Linked DNA regions of Homo sapiens. The protein of the gene in region 1 purifies or fractionates together with the protein of each later gene. This does not show direct contact. Each region holds a gene or a part of one and is shown on either strand. Other genes may lie near its edges.

Region 1 (7,577 bases):
TGTGTTGGAAAAGCGGCTCTATGGAAGACATAGCATCCAGGGCAGGAAGAGGCAGGCTCGGTGGTGTTGGGTTGGAAAGCCCCCGCCTCGTCCGGCGGCCATGCAGTCCCCAGCACCTCTGAGTCCACTCAGCCCAGGGAAGAGGACAACAGAGCTGTGCTCAGTGTCCAGCTGTCTGGATGAGGCCCAGGGAGATGGCCTGTGGTGGAGCAGGAGGACCTGGGGAAACAAAACCCACAGTGGCTGCCCAGCTGCAAAGGCTGCGTTCTTTCTACAGTGTCTGGGGTCTCAGGTATGAGTGGCAGAGGGAGCAGTCCCATCAGCCATGTCAGCCTCGTTGCAATGGAATTCCACTTCTGTCCCAGACACTCAGCCAGACAGGAGGAAACTGTGACCACAGGCATGTGGACACGCAAGGGTATGTTTGAGCAAAGCCTTCTAAACATCCCTTCCATTGCACCCGACTCTCATGACCAAGAACCAGGTGTCCCCATGGGGCTGGGAGATGGGCACCCTCTGGTTAGCAGTGGTCACCCCCTTCCAGAGATGACATCAGCTCCCCAGGCAAGAAACTCCACTTAGAACCCAGAGCCGATCTGAGGAATGATTCATGCAGCTAGACTTATACAAGACTGATCTATAAGCTGGAAGGCTTGTATGTTCACTGACCATGGGAAAGCCTTTCCAGGGCCTGAGCGTTTCCCACTTGGGATCCAAGTCCTCTGTTCCTGGGATCAAGATATTTGGGAAGCCACATCCATCTTTTGAAGGAAATTTGAGCAACAGGGATCAAAGAGTGAGGATCATTCATTCCATCCCCGTAAGGGAGGGAATGGGTCAGTAGGTTGTGTAGCCAGTCCACAAATGGTCACTGTCCACCTGCTGTGTGTTGGCCTTGCCTGAGAGGTGGGGGACAGTGGTGCCACGCCATTCCCAGCCCTGGCCCCCTGGAGCCAGCTGATAGCCTGGCAGGGGAGGCACACGTTGAACAAATTATCATCCGTGATTCACAATGACAAGTGTGCAAAGTGTATCCCACAAAGCACTTATTGAGTGAGAAACACAGGTGTGTGGCCACAGAGACCAAATGGGACCCTCACAGCTGGGGCGGTGACCTTGGAGCTGAGAGTGAAGGCTGCGCAGGAGAGAGACAGGCAAAGGGGTGGGGGCAGGCATTTGCACCCCAGGGGGCTGCAGGGTGATTTGCAAGGGGAGCCCAGGTGAGGGTCCACAGGGACTAGAGCAGGCCAAGAAGGGAGGTTGGTCAGGGGTCGGCTGGAGCCAGGCTTCTGAGGGTTGATTCCCGGCTCTGCCCTCAACCCAGGCAGTTCCCCACTCTACTCATCTCTGACTCCTCCCCTCAAAGCAGGCGTGACAGCGGCACCTGCCTCAGAAAGGAGGGGGCGTGTGGGGAAAGCAGGTATTTCATGACGACCGCCCAGCATAGAGCCCTGGAGACAGTACCCCTGCCCAGGTTCCCACTGGAGCAGGCAGACAGCCCCGGCTGGGATGAGCCAAGCGTGTGTCTCCATGTGGACCCGGCCCAATGTGGGGCTCAGCACCCTCGGGTCTCCTGGTCCGGGCTCCTGTCTCACGCTTTTATGCCATCTTTTCTCAATAGGCACAGGGGACCCCCAAGGGAGGAGGCGCTCCAGACTGAAGGAGGAGAGTACCTGGCAGGGACGGGTGGAGAGGCGCAGGGACCCCAAGGTGTCCAGGGAACAGTAAGGAGATGAGTAACGGTGAGGGTCCCGTCTCCCGAGCGTATCTGTGCTAAGGGGCTGTGGGCTGGGCTTCATTCCTCTTTAGAGCAAGGCTGAGGCCAGGGCCACCTAGGGGCCAGGGTAGAAGACGTACCACGTGACAGCAGTGGCCTAGACCCCTCACGAAGTCTCACTGGGCCATATCTCCACCAGGGCATGGCAGGGACCGGTATCACCAGCGGCCCCCTGCACAGATGGGGAAGCTGAGGCCCAGGTCCCAGTCAGCCAAGCCAGCTCTTGGACCACTCAGCGGTCCCAGCAGGTGAGGCTGACCAGAGCCTGCCTGGGCTAAGAGGCTGCGTTCACCAGTGCCAGCTGTGGTTGGTCACCAGGATGCCTGAGCGCGCTGGCACAGGCCCAGGGCACCCTGCAGAGCAACCAACCCTCACCGAGATCCCCAGGGAAGGGGCTGTTGTTGGCCCATTGTACGGAGGAGGGCACTGAACCCTCAAGAGGCTCAGGGCCTCGCCCGGTCACACAGCTGGAAGGCGCCAGAGCCAGGAAAGGGACCCGGAAGCCCGACCCGGAGCCTACACCCGCAGAGGCGAAAACATCTGCGTAGCGGCTCCCTGGCCAGTGGGCCGTGGTGGGCGTGGCCGAGAGGGAATGGGGCGGAGAGAAGCCCGTGAGGGCAGGGCGGAGGCGGAGGCGGAGGCAGAGGCGGAGCGGGCGGAGCCGGAGGCCGCGGCGGCCTTGATTGGAGGCCGCCTTAAGCTCGTCATGGATGCGTTTTGACCTGGCGGCCCCGCCCCTGACCCGCCCCCGAGCCGCCCTCCCGAGCGCTTCCCCGCCCGGCCCCAGCCTAGGCCCCGCCCTGATCTCGCCCCCTCTTCACCGTCCGGCCCCGGCCCCGCCCCGCGGTGGGGCCTCCGCAGCGACCCGCGGTTAACGCTTCCCCAGAGCTTGGGCTGCGCGGCGGCCGGGAGTCGGAGGCAGGCGGTCAAGGCCGGCAGGGCCGGACCCCCTACTTGCCCTTTCTCCCAGCAGGCGCTGGACTCTGGGGGCGGGCGTGAGCCCCTCCGTCCCGCACCCAGACCCGGGCAGCGAGCCCTATGCCTGCAGTAATTGTGGGGTTTCTGGTTTTGTTTTTTCCTTAACATCTTTATTGAGACCGTTAAGTTCACCCGCTTAAAGCGCACGATTCGGTGGGGTTTTGTTGCGAGCAACCGTGGCCACTATCTAATTCCAGAGCATTTCACCTCCTTAAAATGAAGCTGGGCCCGGCCGGGCGCGGTGGCTCAAGCCTGTAATCCCAGCACTTTGAGAGGCCGAGGAGGAAGGATCACCTGAGGTCAAGAGTTCGAGACCAGCCTGGCCAACATAGTGAAACCGCGTCTCTACTAAAAATACAAAAATTAGCCGGCCGTGGTGAGCGCCTGTAGTCCCAGCTACCCGGGAGTCTGAGGCAGTAGAATCGCTTGAACCCAAGAGGCAGAGGTTGCAGTGAGGCGAGATCGTGCCATTGCACCCCAGCCCGGGCAACAGAGCGAGACTCTGCCTCAAAAACAAACAAAAAAGAAGCCGGTCCCCATCCGCAGTGACTCGCGTTTCCCTCCCCCTCCCCCGTCCCCGGCAACCGTGCATCTACTTTCTATTCCTATGGAGTTGCCAGTTCTGGCTCTTCCTGTGAATGGATTCCCATGCTGTGTATTTTCGTGTCTGAATTCTCTGACTTTCGTCTCAGCCCGCACCCACGCTGCCGCAGTCCGCGCTCGCTGCTTTTAGGCTGAACGCGGCTGCGCCGTGCGGGTGCCCGCGCTCCGGGCGCCCCTCGCAGGTTCAGCCCCGGGTTGGGGGCGGCGCTTGCCTCGCGGCTGCGGGTCCCAGCCTGAACCTGTGTCTTGTTCCACTGCCGCGGGCGCCCGCCACGGAGCTGCTGCTTCCTAGGGAGACGGTTCCATCGTTGAAGGAACGGCCAGACTGTCTTTCGCAGCAGCGGCCCATCTGACCGCACAGCACGACCGCACGAGGGTCCCGAGCCCTGACCCTCGCAGCACTCGTCACCCCGGCCGCGTGGTTGTGGCGGTCTCGGCGGGGCAGGGGGTCCCCACGCGGGCTGATTCTAGTTTCGCGTGACCGATGGTGCTCATTAGCCATATCTGTACATCTTTTTTTTTTTTTCGAGTCGGAGTTTCGCTCTTGTTGCCCAGGCTGGATTGCAATGGCGCGATCTCGGCTCACTGCCTCCCGGGTTCAAGCGATTCTCCTGCCTCAGCCTCCCGAGTAACTGGGATTACAGGCGCCCGCCACTACGCCCGGCTACTTTTTTTGTATTTTTAGTAGAGACGGGGTTATACGATGTTGGCCAGGCTTGTCTCGAACTCCTGACCTCAGGTGATCCGCCCGCCTCGGCCCCCCAAAGTGCTGGGATTACAGGCGTGAGCCACCGCGCCCGGCCCATCTGTACATCTTCTTTGGAAAAATGTGTATCCAAATCCTTAGCCGTTTTATAGTTAGATTGTCTTTTTATTATCGAGTTATAAGAATTATTTATACCTTCTACAAGGAAGTTCATTATCAGATATAGGATTTGCAAATATTTTCTCTCATCTGTGGGTCGTCTTTTCACTTTTCTGATGGTTTCCTTTGAAGCACAGACTTTTTTGTTTGGGTGCAGTGTATTTCTTACTGTGCTTTAAAGAGGAACACGTTTTAAGAACCCCCGCGCGGGGCGGAGCAGGGCGGAGTCCCCGGCGGGAAGGGACCCGAGACCTCGGCTGCGCCTGCGCCGACGCCGGCGCGTGAGCCCGAGCGCGTACCCGGCGGAGCGCGCGCCCGCCCCCGAGTGCGCCTGCGCGGAGCTCGTGGCCGCGCCTGCTCCCGCCGGGGGCTCCTTGCTCGGCCGGGCCGCGGCCATGGGAGAGGCCGAGGTGGGCGGCGGGGGCGCCGCAGGCGACAAGGGCCCGGGGGAGGCGGCCACCAGCCCGGCGGAGGAGACAGTGGTGTGGAGCCCCGAGGTGGAGGTGTGCCTCTTCCACGCCATGCTGGGCCACAAGCCCGTCGGTGAGCGCCCAGGCTGCGGACGCGCGTGGGGGCGGGGCGGGCAACCGGCGGGGCGGGGCGGGGCCTGCGCTCGCGACACCCTCGCCCCCACGCTCCCCGCCGAGCCCGGGCCGTGACACCGCCGCCACACCCGTCCCGGGACCCCCGCCCCCTCCCACGCGCCCTTCGGACCCCGCCCCGGACCCCGCCCACGACCCCTACCCCCGTGAGACCGCGAGGTCCCAGCCCGCAGTGCCCCACCCCCACCCCCGCCCCGGGACAGCCCACCCCCTCCCACACACACCACCCAGCCCTGCCCCCCCACAGCCCCTCCACACCCTGGCCCTCCCCATCTCTCCGCAGCCACCCTTGCCCCTCCAGTCCCCAGGGCAGCCCGTCCCCTCCATCCCCTTTCTCCTCACCGCTCACCGGTTATCCCGCCGCCCCTCCTCCCCTCAGGTGTGAACCGACACTTCCACATGATTTGTATTCGGGACAAGTTCAGCCAGAACATCGGGCGGCAGGTCCCATCCAAGGTCATCTGGGACCATCTGAGCACCATGTACGACATGCAGGCGCTGGTGAGCCCAACCGCCCTCCCTGTGCCGCCCGATGGGGGCACGAACCCGCACACCGCTCTCTGAGAGTCAGCCTGAGCTGGGCAGAGGCCCCTCCATGTCTGCTGGGGTCTGCTGGGCAGAGTAGAGGCCCCTCCATGCCTGCTGGGGTCTGCAGTGAGCTCTCAGGGTCAGCCTGAGCTGGGCAGAGGCCCCTCCGTGCCTGCTGGGGTCCCCTGGGCAGAGACCCCTGCAGTGAGGCTCGTCCTTAAGGAGGACATCCCGGGGCTCCAGAGCCTGTCATGGAAAGCACAAACACAGTGCTAGCAGCTGGCTAGCTTTTCAGGGGCTCTGCTTTAGACTGGGTGCTGGGCCAGAGTCTCCAGCTGAGACCCTGGGGAGGGAGGGAAGGATGCAGAGTCCCGGGCCCTTAGGCCATTGTCAGCCTCCTGGGAGGCCCCCGAAGTGCTTTAGGCAGAGGGTGACCCTATCTGAGTCACACCAAGGTGAATTTGGTGACTTCTGTGGGAGTCAGACAAGTAGAGTTCCAGTCCTCGCAGAGCTTGGAGCTGGCACTGTGTGACGGGCGAGCGGGTTAACTAGGTAAGCAGGGTGGCCAGAAGAGACAGGTGGGTGTTCCAGGCCCTGTGGCAGCAGGAGGTGGTGGGTCCAGGAGCTCAAAGAAGGTGGTGTACTTGGAGAGTGGGGTGGGGGTCAGGGGTCAGGTGACCAGGAGGAGTGGGGACCTGTGCTGGTGGAGAGTCTGTGCCAGCCACGTTGGACTCAGGGCCACACCGGCCATCAGTATGACATAGGTCTCTCCCTCTGGTCTGTGCGACCTCAGGAGGGCAGTGCCTGGCAAGCACTCTCTTCTTCTTTGCCTGGTTCTGTGCCTGTGGCGCTCCCAACCGACACCCTCGGTGTCCATGGGCTCCTGCCACGTGGATGAGAACTCGAGGTGCCTGCGGCCTTTCCCCAGGGCTGTCACTGTGCCCTCTGCATGCCGCCTTGGGGAACGCAGTCTCATGGTGAGACTGCAGGCCGTGCTGGGCAGGCGGAGCCCACAGGTGTGTGTCACCAGGGCTGCCCGGTCCTCAGGGCCCGCCTTAGTGATGCTGGCCCCGGTGGGTCTTCCTGACTCCTGCATCTGCTGCCGCTGGTTCTGCCCTCCCTGGGTCTGTCTGGAAAGCCCAGCTGTGGCAGGCGCTGTTCACAAAAAGAAGAAATGCCCTTTGCCCTTGCCCCGCCCGCCGCAGCCTCCAACACAGTGATGTGTGCTCATTGGCCTCTCCCCAAGTGGCTCTTACACGGCTCTAGTGACTTCTTGAAACTGCATCTTCACCCTTGTTTCTTAAACAAAACTCTCTATTTGATATCAGCATGAGTCTGAGATTCTTCCATTCCCGAATCCAGAGAGGAACTTCGTCCTTCCAGAAGAGATCATTCAGGAGGTCCGAGAAGGTGAGGCTCGGGAAAGGTTGGGCTTGGGATTCAGAAAAGGCCAGACCCTGGCCAAGGGCAGGGAGGTGAGGGTGAGGACCCCGGGCCTCCAGGGAGGTGTGAGGGTCCAGCGCAGACCCCGCCCTACCTGTGCTTGGGTGGTCTTGGAACCTCCGGGATTGGAGAGGACTTTGTTTGAGAGCAGTGGCTGGACGGAAGCTGAGGCCTGTGTGGGCAGCAAGCGTCGGAGCAGTCCCTGGCCTGACCATCCCCCAGCGTCGGCCACCACCGTGGGTTTTCGGTGAGCGTCAGCTGTCTCCTCCACAGGAAAAGTGATGATAGAAGAGGAGATGAAAGAGGAGATGAAGGAAGACGTGGACCCCCACAATGGGGCTGACGATGGTGAGTGTGGAGCTCACCCTGCCCTGATGCCCTTTGGGGCTCAGCACCCCAAGACTGCCTTCAGGCAGGGCACAGTCAGGTGGGCGTAGAGCCTGCGGTGCAGAGGCCCCAGGCAGGTCATCTAGGCACAGGATGGATCCTGCAGTGCCCCCTCCCCAGGAGCTGAGTGCCTGCTCCATGTTGTAGGCCAGGGTCTGAGCGGCGGTCCCTGCAGTGCCCGCCGCAGGCAGGTCCTCAGGAGGACCAGGCCCCTCTGTGGGCCCAAATGCAAGGGGCTCCCAGCTCAGGAGGAAGCTTTGGGTTCAGAGGGTCACGTGTCAGTATGCAGATTTTTTTAACTGAACAGGAAGACAAAAATAAGATTCTGGATATTCTGTTTTCAGCCAAGTGATTTTTCGTTTCTCAGTTTTTTCATCTTCAGGGAGTTTGGGGA
Region 2 (7,024 bases), on another chromosome or scaffold:
ATGGAGAAAGAAGAAAAAGGAAAACCAAATACATTATTCAGTTGACTTAATGTACAAGTGACATTAAAAATTTTAATGATTATATGTCTGTGCTGGGAAATAATGTAATTTAGACTCACTAACATTATGTTCTCTGCAACCATTTTTATTTCTTTTTTACATCTACACAGGTTGTCGAAATAATAATTCCACAGCCTCTTCTAACAATGCCTACAATGTGAATTCCTCCCAACCTCTGGGATCCTATAACATTGGCTCGTTATCTTCAGGAACTGGTGCAGGGGCAATTACCATGGCAGCTGCTCAAGCAGTTCAGGCTACAGCTCAGGTAAAAAGTAAAGGGTTTAGAGACAAAATGTTACATTTTGTCGGAATCATTGGAAACCTAATAGAAATAACGGGATGTGAACAAATAGTTTTCTAACGTTGTATATTTTCATTTTTAAGTCATGATTTCACGATATGTGATATTTTATTTAATGAAATAATACATAGGAATTGCCTGATTGATAATGAAAACTAAAAAATAGGTTTATCATGCGGATTACATGCAGACCCTTCTCACAATAACTGCTCATGTTGCCCATGTTCTTGACTGCAGTCCACAGCACATGCTAGCATAGTTCTTCGTTCTTTCTGCCAGTTCCAAGGCTTCCCCTGTAGCCTTGGACTTAGGTCATCTTGAGTTTGTTCACTTCTGTATAGTTTGCCTATATTCCAAATTAAGAAGCTGCCCATCCCATAGTTTATATTCTAACTGTGTAAAATCTTATTTTAAATCTTTAAATGAAAAAGGTTAGGCCAGGCATGGTGACTCACACCTGTAATCCCAGCTCTTTGATAGGCCGAGGCAGGTGGATCACTTGAGGTCAGGAGTTCAAAACCAGCCTGGTCAACATGGTGAAACTCCATTTCTACTAAAAATACAAAAAAATTAGCTGGGTGCCTGGTGGGTGCCTGTAATCCCAGCTACTCGGTAGGCTATGGCAGGAGAATTGCTTGAACCTGAGAGGTGGAGGTTGCAGCGAGCCAAAATCGTGCCACTAGACTCCAGCCCAAGCGACAGATTGAAACTCCACCTCAAAAAAAAAAAAAAAAAAAAGCTTAAATTCCAGTGATGAAAATAATAGTTTAAACAATATAAATTAACATTTGATAAACCAAAATAAAACTATAATTTGTAAAACTTGAAAAAGAAAATCTACATATTTACATATATTGATGCTATCAATGAATGTCTATTTAAGATGAAGGAGGGACGAAGAACATCAAGTTTAAAAGCCAGTTATGAAGCATTTAAGAATAATGACTTTCAGTTGGGAAAAGAATTTTCAATGGCCAGGGAAACAGTTGGCTATTCATCATCTTCGGCACTTATGACAACATTAACACAGAATGCCAGTTCATCAGCAGCCGACTCACGGAGTGGTCGAAAGAGCAAGTAAGTTTTATTGTTACAGTAGCCCTATACCTTTACTGAACACTTGGTCTACTTGACACTTCAGCCAGGCCTCTCTATGTTAAAGGCAGGATATAACGGATTAAAATTAACCTTGCAGAGGTAGGGAGACATGCGGTTTTCATTTTATAGTGCCATACTTTGAAGGTGTCAAGTCTTTAAAAAGTGTTAGAGTTGTTTTTAATTTTTCTAGAGTCATAAATTGAGTTTGTTAATACATGACTTCTTTTTATCTTCTTTTATTCATTAAGATAAATCATTTTATGGAACTGCTTTTCATTTATTACCCTTTATTTTGCCATGTGTTTCAAGGTAAATTAATGCAATGCAAATTATATCCTGGTGATTTTTTTTTTTTAAACAAGATTTTTCATTTTGATTAACAGCAAGCAAGGCGTCTTCATTCTTAGTCTTGGGTCCCAAAAACTGATGGTGTAAAAATATCCCTAGATTTTGTATATGAGACTTGGGATGACTGTATAAGCTTTAAATATGAAAACCTAATAGCATTTATCACTGTCTATCCCAGGTAACTGAATATGCTGGGTGTTTATACATAATGAAAGTTCAAATGCTAGGCCAAAATAATTAGTTACCTAGTAGTTATATTTTCTGTATTTTAAAATATGTTATATTTTTTGTGAATTAATCCCTTAAAGAACGATCAATATGAAATAACCACAACAGAAGTGTCAAACATCTTAAAAATTAATTCATCTTAATGGTACAAGTTTAATGTAATTTCTTATGATAAAGTTCTATACTTTTAGAATTTAAATAGCATAGGGCTTAGCAGTAAATTACTTGTGAATTTTTACAGTCTTGGTTCCCTGCCATACTCATGGTAGGTATTCACACATCAGTTGATGGTTATAACCACTTTCATCAAATGTTTTTGTGTGTGTGTGCTTTAGGTTTTGATGAAGAGTATTCAGTTTACTTAAAAATACGAATAATGAGTGGCTGGGCGGGGTGGCTCATGCCTATAATCCCAGCACTTTGGGAGGCCGAGGTGGGCAGATCACGAGGTCAGGAGATCGAGACCATCCTGGCTAACACGATGAAACCCCATCTCTACTAAAAATACAAAAAATTAGCCAGGCATGGTGGCGGGCGCCTGTAGTCCCAGCTACTCGGGAGGCTGAGGCAGGAGAATGGCGTGAACCTGGGAGGTGGAGCTTGCGGTGTGCAGAGATCGCGCCACTGCACTCCAGTCTGGGCAACAGAGCGAGACTCCATCTCAAAAAAAAAAAAAAAATACAAATAATGTCTGTAAAGTAGCCAGAACTTATGTTAATTCTTCAAAGTACTACCTACAATTTAAGTCATTGGTAAATCCGGATTACTTTAGCTTACACTTTAATTTATACATTTGATGTCATTTCATTTTATACTATTTATTTAGGAGTTATTCTCAGTTAACTTCTGGATGGTGAGCAAATAAAACTTATACTATTTTTTTCAGAAACAACAACAAGTCTTCAAGCCAGCAGTCATCATCTTCCTCCTCCTCTTCTTCCTTATCATCGTGTTCTTCATCATCAACTGTTGTACAAGAAATCTCTCAACAAACAACTGTAGTGCCAGAATCTGATTCAAATAGTCAGGTTGATTGGACTTACGACCCAAATGAACCTCGATACTGCATTTGTAATCAGGTAAAAGTCTGTTATATCTATAAAAGTATAATCTGAATAAACTAGAAGGAAGAGAACTATTTCATTTTTAAGCACTTTTTTAAACTCACTTAAAATACCTTTGCTTTATTTGTATACTTTTCTCCCCCTTCTTACAAAAGTGACATTTGCTGTAAATACTGAGTATAAAGAAAAATGTTACCCATAATCCTAGCCCTCAGATACAACCTGTAACTAAACATTTTTGGTATACCACTACCATATACCTCATGTGCACATTGGCTGCCTTAATAAAATACAACAGACTGGGTAGCTTAAACAACAGAAAATAATTTTCTCACAGGTATGAAGGCTGGGAAGTCCAAGATCAAGGTGTCCACTGACTCAGTTCTGGAGGAGGGCTCCCTTCCTAGATGGAGACTGCTGCCTTCTCACCGGGTCCTCACATGATAGAGGGAGAAAGAGTGTGCTCTGGTGTCTTTTCTTATAAGGGCACCAGCCTTGTCAGAGTAGGACCCCACTCTATGACCTCATTTAACCTTTACCACCTCCTCACAGGCCCTGTTTCCAATTATAGTCACGTTGGGGGTTAGGGCTTCAACATATGATTTTGAGACATAAGCTTGCATTTCATAACACGTGTCTATGCAGATTTGCACATGCATGTGTGTATAAGTTTGTCAGTAGGAACCACAGTGTATACTTTCTTGTTACTGGCTTTTTTCTCTAAATCAGGTATACCGAACATGATTTTTCTTTAAGATCATATTTTTAATTTTCACATAGTTATCTCTTATGCCATCCAGTGTAGTTTTCTTAACCAATACCTAGCTATAGATTATATTAGTGGTTTTAATTTGTTTGAAATTAGGGATAATATTACGATAGGCATTTTTTAAATGTAATCCATTTTATACATCTAATTTCTTGGATAATCTTTTAGAAATAAAATTAGGCTGTAAATATTTGACAGACACCAAAATATATTTTCTAGAAATTTATTACCAAAAATTAATAAACATACCGGTTTACTAAACCCTGTCCAACACTGGATATTATTTTCTTTTAAAAACTAAGTACCAATTTGGTAGTTTTATATTATGATTGTTTTAAATACACTAGTATTATTGAAGTTGGACATTTTTTGACCATTTTTGTTTTTTACATTATGAATCGACTCCTAATGGTGTCGGCTGATTTTTCTATTGTTTTTGTTATGTACTCTAAATATTTGCTTGATTTAGTTTTTTAAAAATAATTCTAAAATTTTAATTTTATGTAGTTATGACTGTTAATTTTTTTTTATGAAGCAAGCCATGGATTATATACTTAGAAGGGCTTTCTCTTTGGCTCTTCTTTCTACAAAAAATTGTCTTGTATAATATTTTCTCCTAGTTTTTATATGGTTTTGTCTAGTTCTTTGCATGCTTCAGTTTCTTCACATTTAAGACTTAGTCTATCAGCAGATTATTGTGTCTAACAGTATGAGTTGCCAGTCTGATTTTTAAAAATTTTAACAATTTGTTAGCTGTTCCACTATCACCCGATAAACATTTTTCAGTACAAATGATAGAAAAGCATATCCTGTATCCTGACAACAAAAGTAGATTACTTGCAAAAGAACAAAATCAGACTGAACCTAGAGTTTTCCTCTGTAACACTAAAAAACTAGAAGGTGATGGAATATGTCTGTAGAGCTTTCAGGGAAAAATTAAGAGCCCCCAAAAACTTGATATTCAGAGAAGTTATTTCTCTGCATAGGACCATGTAAATATATTTTCACTCATGCAGAGAATCAGAAGATATGCCATCTAGTTAATCCTGTCTGAAAAATTATTCAATCCACTGAGAACTTCAGTGAACTCAAGAATTAGCAAGTTATGCCCTAAAGTGCTGGTGATGAAGAGCAAAAGAAAAATGAGAAAGGACATAAAATAGATAAGTTTAGAAGTTTCAAGGAAGGAGACTATTAATTGCAAAAATATAAATGACCTAATGTGACCCAAGAAGTAAAAACTTTCAGTAAGTAAATAATCAAGAAAGGAACTTAAAATTTTTACAATAAGAACTACCCAGAAAGATGACTCCTTCATCCGGGTGATTTATATGTCAAGTTCTTCCAGACTTCTGAAGGGCAGATAATTCCTGTGCATTTCTTCCCACCCTTGCCCCACCCTGCCCAAAAGAGTATTTCAGGAAAAAATTATTATACCTTGATTCTCAATGTAATTGTATATTCAGTGTATTTCCCTTTATTTTCCAGCAGTATCATACATAAACAGTTAATTGGTATCTAGGTGTTTGTTACATAGTCATAATAAAGACATTTAATTTTTTTTAACTAGGTATCTTATGGTGAGATGGTGGGATGTGATAACCAAGATGTAAGTATTACATTTTTCTATTTAGGAATGAAAAAAATCACAGGTTGTTATTACTTGAATATTTGTCTTATTTGCTGTATGGTTTGGTCTAAGAAAACAGGTTTGCAGGTATATTAGTTATATTATGCTAATGCTAGAATATTCCTCTTCAAAATAGGGTAGTGTCCCTTAATGTGTTCCCTATTTTAATTTTTAAAGCTAATTTTATGGTTTTATGTGCAGATTGTCTCAGAAGTGTTATGTTGTATGAAAATTATAAATACCCTCCTTTCCCTTTACTAAAAAATACTGTGTTTACTAGAATCCAGTTCATTTATCACATTGAAGAAATGGAATTTTAAAACAATTCATTCTTTCAGGCTGCACCGTGCTAAAGTGAAGGGTGGGATAATTGAGGATCTAATGTGAGATTATCTTCCTCTCATGAGTATAATATTTTTTCCTGTACTCTGCAGGTGTCAGCTGATAAGAGCCACCCCTGATCTAAAAAGTAAAGGAAATTTGAAAGGAAGGAATTCTTGGTTTTTAGGAGACTTAATTTTAGTTAGAGATACGTTTTTTATTCAATACTGAGAATATTGTTGTCTAGTAATTTTGACTCCCTCCTTATTTAGTAGTGACAGGATCCTAAGATTAACAAGAGTTTTAAATTTGTAAAACAATCTGAAGATTGAGGGAGCTGGCTAGGTGCATTAAAATGTGTACTTTTCCTAGACCTGATAGGGTTACAGCAACATGCTCACGTAGATTGGGACAGAGCCTCCTTCTGTTTCCCTGTCTAGAATCCCTTGTAGGCTGTTTGTGGTTGTTGCAAAAACAATATTGCCCAACCATTTCAAGAACATCACTGTAAACTCTTCTGGGGCAGTTAGTGAAAATGATGAATGAGATTTCTATGAGTACCAGCATCATGCTTCTCTGATTCTTCTTATTCCCAGTTGTGCTCTTCTGAGTGCTAAGACTTTCATGAAAGAGTTTTCTGCTTAATATGTTTCAAAGAGGAATAATTTTTCTCTACATTTCAAGGAATAGAAACACCCACGTAGGAAATGCAGGGCATAAGACATAAATTAATGTCTTTAATTACAATCAGCTTATTCTACTTTATGAGACAGCAAATAAGGCTGACTATTAAATAAAATCTTAAGTTATATTTACCTTCTACATAGAAGATTCATCCCACTTCTTTTTGCCCTTGAAAGCTGAAAACTAGTGAATTTTCATTCATTAGGATGAGGGGACTAGATTACATGGACCTCAGGATTCTTGAAGATGCATAATTTTTCTGTGCCTTCATTTCCTCATTCCTGAAGCTTATCATTTAGTCTAAATGATGTCTAAATAATCTAGATCTAAAAATTCTGATGTCACACATCTAATTATTGTTAAATTAAATGGATTATTCAGTCTCCTGAGCATATTTTAATATACTCTCTTGTCTTCAGAAGTACTGAAAACTTGTTTTTTGCAATTTTGCTTTCTAGTGCCCTATAGAATGGTTCCATTATGGCTGCGTTGGATTGACAGAGGCACCAAAAGGCAAA
Region 3 (6,932 bases), on another chromosome or scaffold:
CAGAGGTATTGTGATTGTATGTGCTTTTTTTTTTTTTAATTGGCAAAAAAGAGAAAAAGGTTTCCTTTTTAAAAACTGCACACACTTTTTTGGGGGGGTAATAAATGAACATTTTTTTGTTTGTTTTTTTTAGAACTGAGCTCTCCATAGACAAACATAAGTAGCATAACACAGTGTCTTTCCTCAGACATCATTCTGTACAGTAAATCAACATAAACAACTCCGTTCTTATTGACTGGATTTTTTCCAGGTGGGTTAATTGGGTGGGGAAAATTAATTAACCTTAACATTAGAGCCTCTTTTCTTCCTGTTAAACTTAAAGGATGAGTTCTTTAAAAAAAAGCAATAAACCAACCAACAACTGTAATCTTTCATATAGAGCAAATTTTTTTAATGACTACAATTAGAAAATATGTAGAACTATTAGTATATATACACAGAGCCATTAGGGATCATCTGAATGCCTTGGGAAGATATGGATTAAATAGAAACCAAATGTAATTATCAGATATTCTCTCAAGCTCAGTGCAAAGCTGAATTCCAAATCTATGGATTTTAAAAGCTGATATTATCTTTCTACACTGTGTAGAACAAGTGTCACAGCTTAAAAAAAAAATAGTGGTGTTGAAATTTGGGAAGTGAGCAGTTCTCTTTCCTGTGTTTAATTCAGGAAGTTTAATTTTTTTTTTCTTTAAATTCATGCCACTCTTGTTAAATGTGGTAGCAGAAACGCAGAAATTTTCATTTGGAAGTGATCTTTAGCAGGATCATGATCCTTTGTCAGATGCTTCAATTTTGCACAGATTTAATGCAGAATTTTTGTTTTAGTACTGTAAGACATACATGACAGCTGGGCATTTTTATAAAGTGTTTCTTTATTTTATGTTCAGCATTTACAGCCGAACAATACCAGCAACATCAACAGCAACTGGCACTCATGCAGAAACAGCAGCTTGCACAAATTCAGCAACAGCAAGCAAATAGTAATTCCTCCACCAACACATCACAGGTGAGGGATTTGTCTGTCTTATGATTATCCCTCATTGTTTCCCACCAGAGTTCATCTCTAATTACCAACTGTTGTCATAGAACCTTGCATCTAACCAGCAGAAAAGTGGCTTTCGCCTGAATATACAGGGTTTAGAAAGAACACTACAGGTGAGTATGGAAGCTGTTGCCTCTGCTCCCTATTTTAAAAAGTAAAACTAAAGCACTTAGTTAAATGAGATGAAGATACTGTCTTCCCGTCTGACCTGTAGTCCATTAATGTACCTCTTGAATATATAACCCCACCCAGTTCATTCTCTTGGGCATGTTAATTATTATTAAGGCTTTTAACATTATGCAAAAATAACCTCTCCAACTGTTGAAAGAGATAACTTTTAAACCTAAAGCATGATAAACGTTTGCCAGTTAAACACATGTAGGGCATAAAGGCTGAGGTTTGAGTCCCTGCATCTTGCAGGAAAAATATATTTTTAAAAAGTTGAGGGGCCTATCAATTTCTAGGTTAAATTATGTGATATTTTGTTACTTCCATTTCTAAAGGGATAGTTATCTTATCCCAAAGGTGCCTTTCATTGTGTGTGTATACATATGTGTGTGTGTATAAGTTAGGTGAAGGAAGTTTACATATTCATTTATTCATTATATGGATTTGCAAATCACTGAAATGTTTACTAGCATATTTCTTGTCCAACATTTTGTGTTGGAGGTTTGCTGTTTCCACATTATAGAAGGCTTATTTTGGTAATTGACTTATACATATTATATATTGTCACATATGAAGCAAAATTTATAACTTAGATTACTTTTCACTTATCAAATATATGACTATCAAAAGAGATATAATTACTGTTGCATCTCAAGGTACCAAAATAGAAAGATTTCAGTGGTTTGCCATTTTTACTTATATTCAAACTGATTTTGGTATGCATGTGTAGTTTTGATATTGATTTGATACTAAGTGATACTGATTAGATTTCTTTTGTATTTTCTTTTTAGGGTTTTGTTTCTAAGACTTTGGATTCTGCTAGTGCACAGTTTGCTGCTTCTGCTTTGGTGACATCAGAACAACTGATGGGATTCAAGATGAAGGATGATGTGGTGCTTGGAATCGGGGTGAATGGCGTCCTTCCAGCCTCAGGTAAGAATAAAGACATTTAAATTGTTTGGGTTATATTTATAACATATATCTATAATATAAACAGCAAAGTTGTACATTGTTTAGATGTTTCTTTCTTTTTCTCTCTAGGAGTATACAAGGGCTTACACCTCAGTAGTACTACACCAACAGCACTTGTACATACAAGTCCATCAACGGCAGGTTCAGCTTTGTTACAGCCTTCAAATATTACACAGACTTCAAGTTCCCACAGTGCACTGAGTCATCAAGTAACTGCTGCCAATTCTGCAACAACTCAGGTTCTGATTGGGAACAACATTCGATTAACTGTACCTTCATCAGTTGCCACTGTAAACTCTATTGCCCCAATAAATGCACGACATATACCTAGGACTTTAAGTGCTGTTCCATCATCTGCCTTAAAGCTGGCCGCTGCAGCAAACTGTCAAGTTTCCAAGGTCCCATCTTCATCCTCTGTAGATTCAGTTCCAAGGTGAGTAGTTATTTTTGCCTAACATACCTGGAATAAGAGATCTAACTTCAGTCCTCCAGCATCGTTCTTTACCTATTTCTTTGTGTTTCTTGTTCTTTTCCTTTTATACATTGAAAATGTATAGTTGAGAATTGATCACTTATTTATTCAAGAACTAAACAGTTCTTGAACACTTAATTCAATATTAAGAATTTGAACTAACTGGTATAGTGAATGTTGCATATATGATTTGGAACATCCCTTTCTTACTATAACAATAGTTATACCAGGTGCAGTGGCTCACGCCTGTAATCCTAGCACTTTGGGAGGCAGAGGCAGGCAGATCACCTAAGGTCAGGAGTTCGAGAACAGCCGATCCAACATGGTGAAAGGCCACCTCTACTAAAAATACAAAATCACCCGGGCATGGTGGCGCATGCCTGTAATCTCAGCTACTCAGGAGGCTGAGGCAGGAGAATCGCTTGAACCTGGGAGGTGGAGGTTGCAACCAAGATCGCACCATTGCACTCTGGCCAGGGCAACAAGAGCTAAACTCTGTCTCAAAAAAAAAAAAAAGCGTATAATGCTCTCAGTTTTCTTCCGTCTTTGGATGGAAGGAGTTCTCCTGAGAGCGTTTCTTTTATGACTTTTTTTCCACAGCTTCTCATGTAAACAGGTAGAATTGATAGAAACCCCTGCCCCATCACTGGTATGCTAAGCTATTCTTTTTTTTTTTTTTTTTTTTTTTTTTTTGAGACCGAGTCTCGCTCTGTTGCCCAGGCTGGAGTGCAGTGGCACAATCTCAGCTCACTGCAATCTCTGCCTCCCAGGTTCAAGTGATTCTGTCTCAGCCTTCTGAGTAGATGGGATTACAGGCATACACCGCGATGCCTGGCTAATTTTTGCATTTTTAGCAGGGACGGGGTTTCACCATGTTGGCCATGCTAGTCTTGAACCCCTGACCTCAGGTGGTCAGCCTGCCTTGGCCTCCCAAAGTGCTGGAATTACAGGCATGAGCCACCACGCCCGGCGTTAAGCTATTCTTATTAATGTAAAGACTTACAGTATTCATGCCAGGTCAACTCTAAATTGAACCATTATTTTTTGTGCTAACTTGCCGTCTTGGATTTCAGTAGACAGTTGAGAATTTTGCTTATGCTCTATTATGTTGTAGAATTAAGGGTAGTTAAAATCCTGCTGTCTACAAGGTACTGTGGGAGAAACAAAAGAAAAAGACAGGTGTTTTCAGTTTAGTTAGCAGACAAGCATAAAAGAGTGAGAAGTCCAATAATGCTAATTGTAGATATCACAAAGCATTATATACTTGTTAAATTAATTGTATAGATGATGGCTGTAATTCAGTATAAGGAGAAATCTTTTTTTGCACAGGGAATTCTGGGACTCTTCTAACAAAATAAGATCAGATCCAATCTGTGTTAGTCTTCGGGCAAAGAGGAGAAAGAAAAAGCATTTCTGGCAGGTGGAGTGAAATACAAATTTGAGGCTGAGTGAAAATACAAAGTTGAGGAAATACAAGTGTTTAGAAGTTAACAAGTAAACTGGTTTTTGTATAGGCTCAGGAAGGTTAGTAGTTTAAATTGGAATGGCAGGAGAAGCCATTCCAGATTCCTGGAGCACTTTAAATGCCAGACTGGTAGACTGTCTCAGCCAGGAGTGGCCCAGAAGAAAGCAGGGTTTGTAGCAATGAACTGTGGCCTGTAGTTTCCAAACCATGCATCTGCATCTGCTTCTGAATTTAAGTAACAGTCATTGTCTGCTTAATGCCAATCCATTCTTAATAGTATTCTGGGTCTAATTATATAGCTCATCTGTCAGCTATAGTTCTGACTCATATCATGATTTTACTGCTCTAGAATTGTTTAACCATGGAATATTTGCCATGTATAGAATTTTCATATCACATGTCCTTTTGTTTTTAAAGATGAAGAAACTGAGACGCAGAGAAGTTAATGTATTTCTCTAAGGACACTCAAAAGTCTAGACTGTAGAACCACTAGGGCCCTCGAGCTCTGTGGCTGTGCCACTCAGCTCCATGTATTAGACTGATTTAAAGCCTGACACAAATCTCAGTTATGTTTGTTTCCTTTTTAAAAACTCTTTTGAAAGGTTTAATAGAGAAGGAACTTGAAACAACAATTACTAAAACATGGGAATTCTTTGTTTTTAACATCTAGGTTGCTTGAGTACTACTATAATTTTGATGGTAATGTAGTTGACTGTGGAATTTATTTATAGTCAACATTAGCCTGATTTCTGATAATAAACTATAAAGATTCGTATTCCTCTACTTGCTAGCTTGTTCCCAAAGAGTCCAATTTCTTCCTGTTAATAAAAATAAACTTTTTGTTGGGAAGATAATGTTCATTTGCTGAATATTTATGTTGTAGATAAGTAATTGATTGAACTTTATTTCAACAGGGAAAATCATGAATCAGAAAAGCCAGCACTGAACAACATAGCAGACAACACAGTAGCGATGGAGGTGACGTAGCTTCCTCCGAGTGGAACTGCAGCCTGGGGACTTGATTAGGTGCTATGCATCAGTAGCATTTTGAATGCAAGGGATGATGGAAAGCAGCACATGCGTTTCTGTGGCAGCTGTGGGGACTTGACAGCAATGCTCATCTCTCATGCTTCAATTTTTCTTTTCTTACTGTTAATAGGAAAAAAATCAACATCTGTAAATTAAGAATACAGCAATTATCTGTACAGTACTGCATATTTGTAATACCCTTGTATATATGTTACTTGAATACAGAAATGTTCATTTGTGATGCTTTGCACTTGGGGGTGGGGGGTGGGAGGGAAATCAATTGCAACAAAGAGTGTGAGATGTGAGATTGTATAGAGATGAAGTGTCATCACATCATGTGCATGGTGCGGAACCTGCTGTTTTATCTATTTATTGTGCCGTGTTTACAGTTTTTTGTACACTGTACCTTCATTGGTTCCTGTGCTGTAGTAAATGTGTTAGGTAGCTGTGGACTCCTTGGTATTTTGTAAATGGTATAACATAACTTGGTTCCCCTCTGGGTCCTTGAGTTTTCTGTGTATCATGTGAAAAAAAATGGTGACATACATACAGAATTTTACAAAAAAAAAAAAAAAAAAAAAGGCATCAGTTTTTTTAAAAATGGGGAATGTACTATTAAATGGGGATCTTCCTGGTCTACTATCATTAGGACAAGTAACAAGCTAAAAATGAAGTCTCTTGAATCTTTCCATCCCCAACTTGCCCACAAAGCTGTGGGTGGTTTCTGGTACTTAAAGCACTAATATTATGTTGCTGCTCTGCGAACAGCCCAGTAGTCCCATTTCCTTCCACACCAAAAAGTGTTAAATCAAGTATGCAAATGGAGTCCTTACAACTGGAGTTTATGTTGTCTTGCCCTTTTTTTAGCACAAAAAAAATTGTACTTTTTTATTGTCGAATTGTTTAAAAGACTTCATTCTTTACTTGTTCTTACGAAAAGGATATAAGGGAGAAGAATGCAGTAATTGCTGTACGTGTATCATCATTCCAGTTTCTAAAAACAGCCAGCCAGCTTTTTTCCTTTTAAGATTCTCCAGAAGGCTGCAAGGCCAGAACCACAAATATCGGGTGCCTTCCTTTGGAAATATTTGACCTCTCTTCTGTGAAGAGAATGGTACTTAACAGACTACTACTAGTGCTTTGTCAGTACCGAAGTCTGAATGCCCAGTCCAATGGCATACATTATCCTTAAGGTTTTTAATCCCACCTGGAAAAATTGTGATAGAATTCTCACAAAATAAACCCAGGGCATTACATGTTGACAAACTAATGTGTAGTGGTCTTTTGCTTTTGTTTTCAACCCAAGAACCTCTGTGTGACTTATATTAGAATCATTCCATAAAGGAGGGGATGGAAATGGGGGGTGATGACTTTAAGTTCATTTTCTTCAACAGTTACTTACTGAATGACTGCAATGCCTGGGACCACTTTAGGTCCTACAACTGTGGGGAAAATAATTCCTGCCCTCATGGAGCTTATACTCTCATAGGGGGAAAATAAATAAATAAATGCATTTAAAATATATTACGACCAGTATTTGGAAGAAAAGTGAAGGAAGGGAACAAACAGTGCCCGGGAAGGCTGGAGGTTGCAGTTTCAAGTAGGGTGGTCAAGGAAGGGCCCACAGGCAGTTATGTTTCATCAGAGACTGGAAGTTAAGGAAAAATATTCCAGGCAGAGAGAAGTACAGAGATCCCGAGGTGGTAGTGTGTCTACTGCACTGGATAACACCGCCAGGGCTGGAGGGAGCTGGGGTAGGGCGTGTCGGCCACAGGGAGCCA

What was found.
Region 2: the proteins of MRGBP (region 1) and ING3 purify together in Homo sapiens (co-immunoprecipitation; 5 studies listed by BioGRID and IntAct, with this or other methods). This does not show direct contact.
Region 3: the proteins of MRGBP (region 1) and EPC1 purify together in Homo sapiens (affinity purification with mass spectrometry; 7 studies listed by BioGRID and IntAct, with this or other methods). This does not show direct contact.

The regions. Positions count from the first base shown.
Region 1 is NC_000020.11:62,791,906-62,799,482, forward strand, and holds the start of MRGBP (MRG/MORF4L-binding protein), read left to right. Parts: upstream 1-4,567; 5' UTR 4,568-4,618; coding exon 4,619-4,766; intron 4,767-5,204; coding exon 5,205-5,326; intron 5,327-6,681; coding exon 6,682-6,763; intron 6,764-6,947; exon of another isoform or gene 6,948-7,069; coding exon 7,070-7,144; intron 7,145-7,550; coding exon 7,551-7,577.
Region 2 is NC_000007.14:120,967,764-120,974,787, forward strand, and holds part of ING3 (inhibitor of growth protein 3), read left to right. Parts: intron 1-170; coding exon 171-328; intron 329-1,247; coding exon 1,248-1,441; intron 1,442-2,924; coding exon 2,925-3,117; intron 3,118-3,437; exon of another isoform or gene 3,438-3,582; intron 3,583-5,441; coding exon 5,442-5,480; intron 5,481-6,964; coding exon 6,965-7,024. UniProt on the Homo sapiens protein: Component of the NuA4 histone acetyltransferase (HAT) complex which is involved in transcriptional activation of select genes principally by acetylation of nucleosomal histones H4 and H2A.
Region 3 is NC_000010.11:32,267,240-32,274,171, reverse strand, and holds the end of EPC1 (enhancer of polycomb homolog 1), read left to right. Parts: intron 1-133; exon of another isoform or gene 134-250; intron 251-890; coding exon 891-1,009; intron 1,010-1,057; exon of another isoform or gene 1,058-1,089; coding exon of another isoform or gene 1,090-1,158; intron 1,159-2,004; coding exon 2,005-2,146; intron 2,147-2,254; coding exon 2,255-2,618; intron 2,619-5,036; coding exon 5,037-5,109; 3' UTR 5,110-6,421; downstream 6,422-6,932. UniProt on the Homo sapiens protein: Component of the NuA4 histone acetyltransferase (HAT) complex, a multiprotein complex involved in transcriptional activation of select genes principally by acetylation of nucleosomal histones H4 and H2A.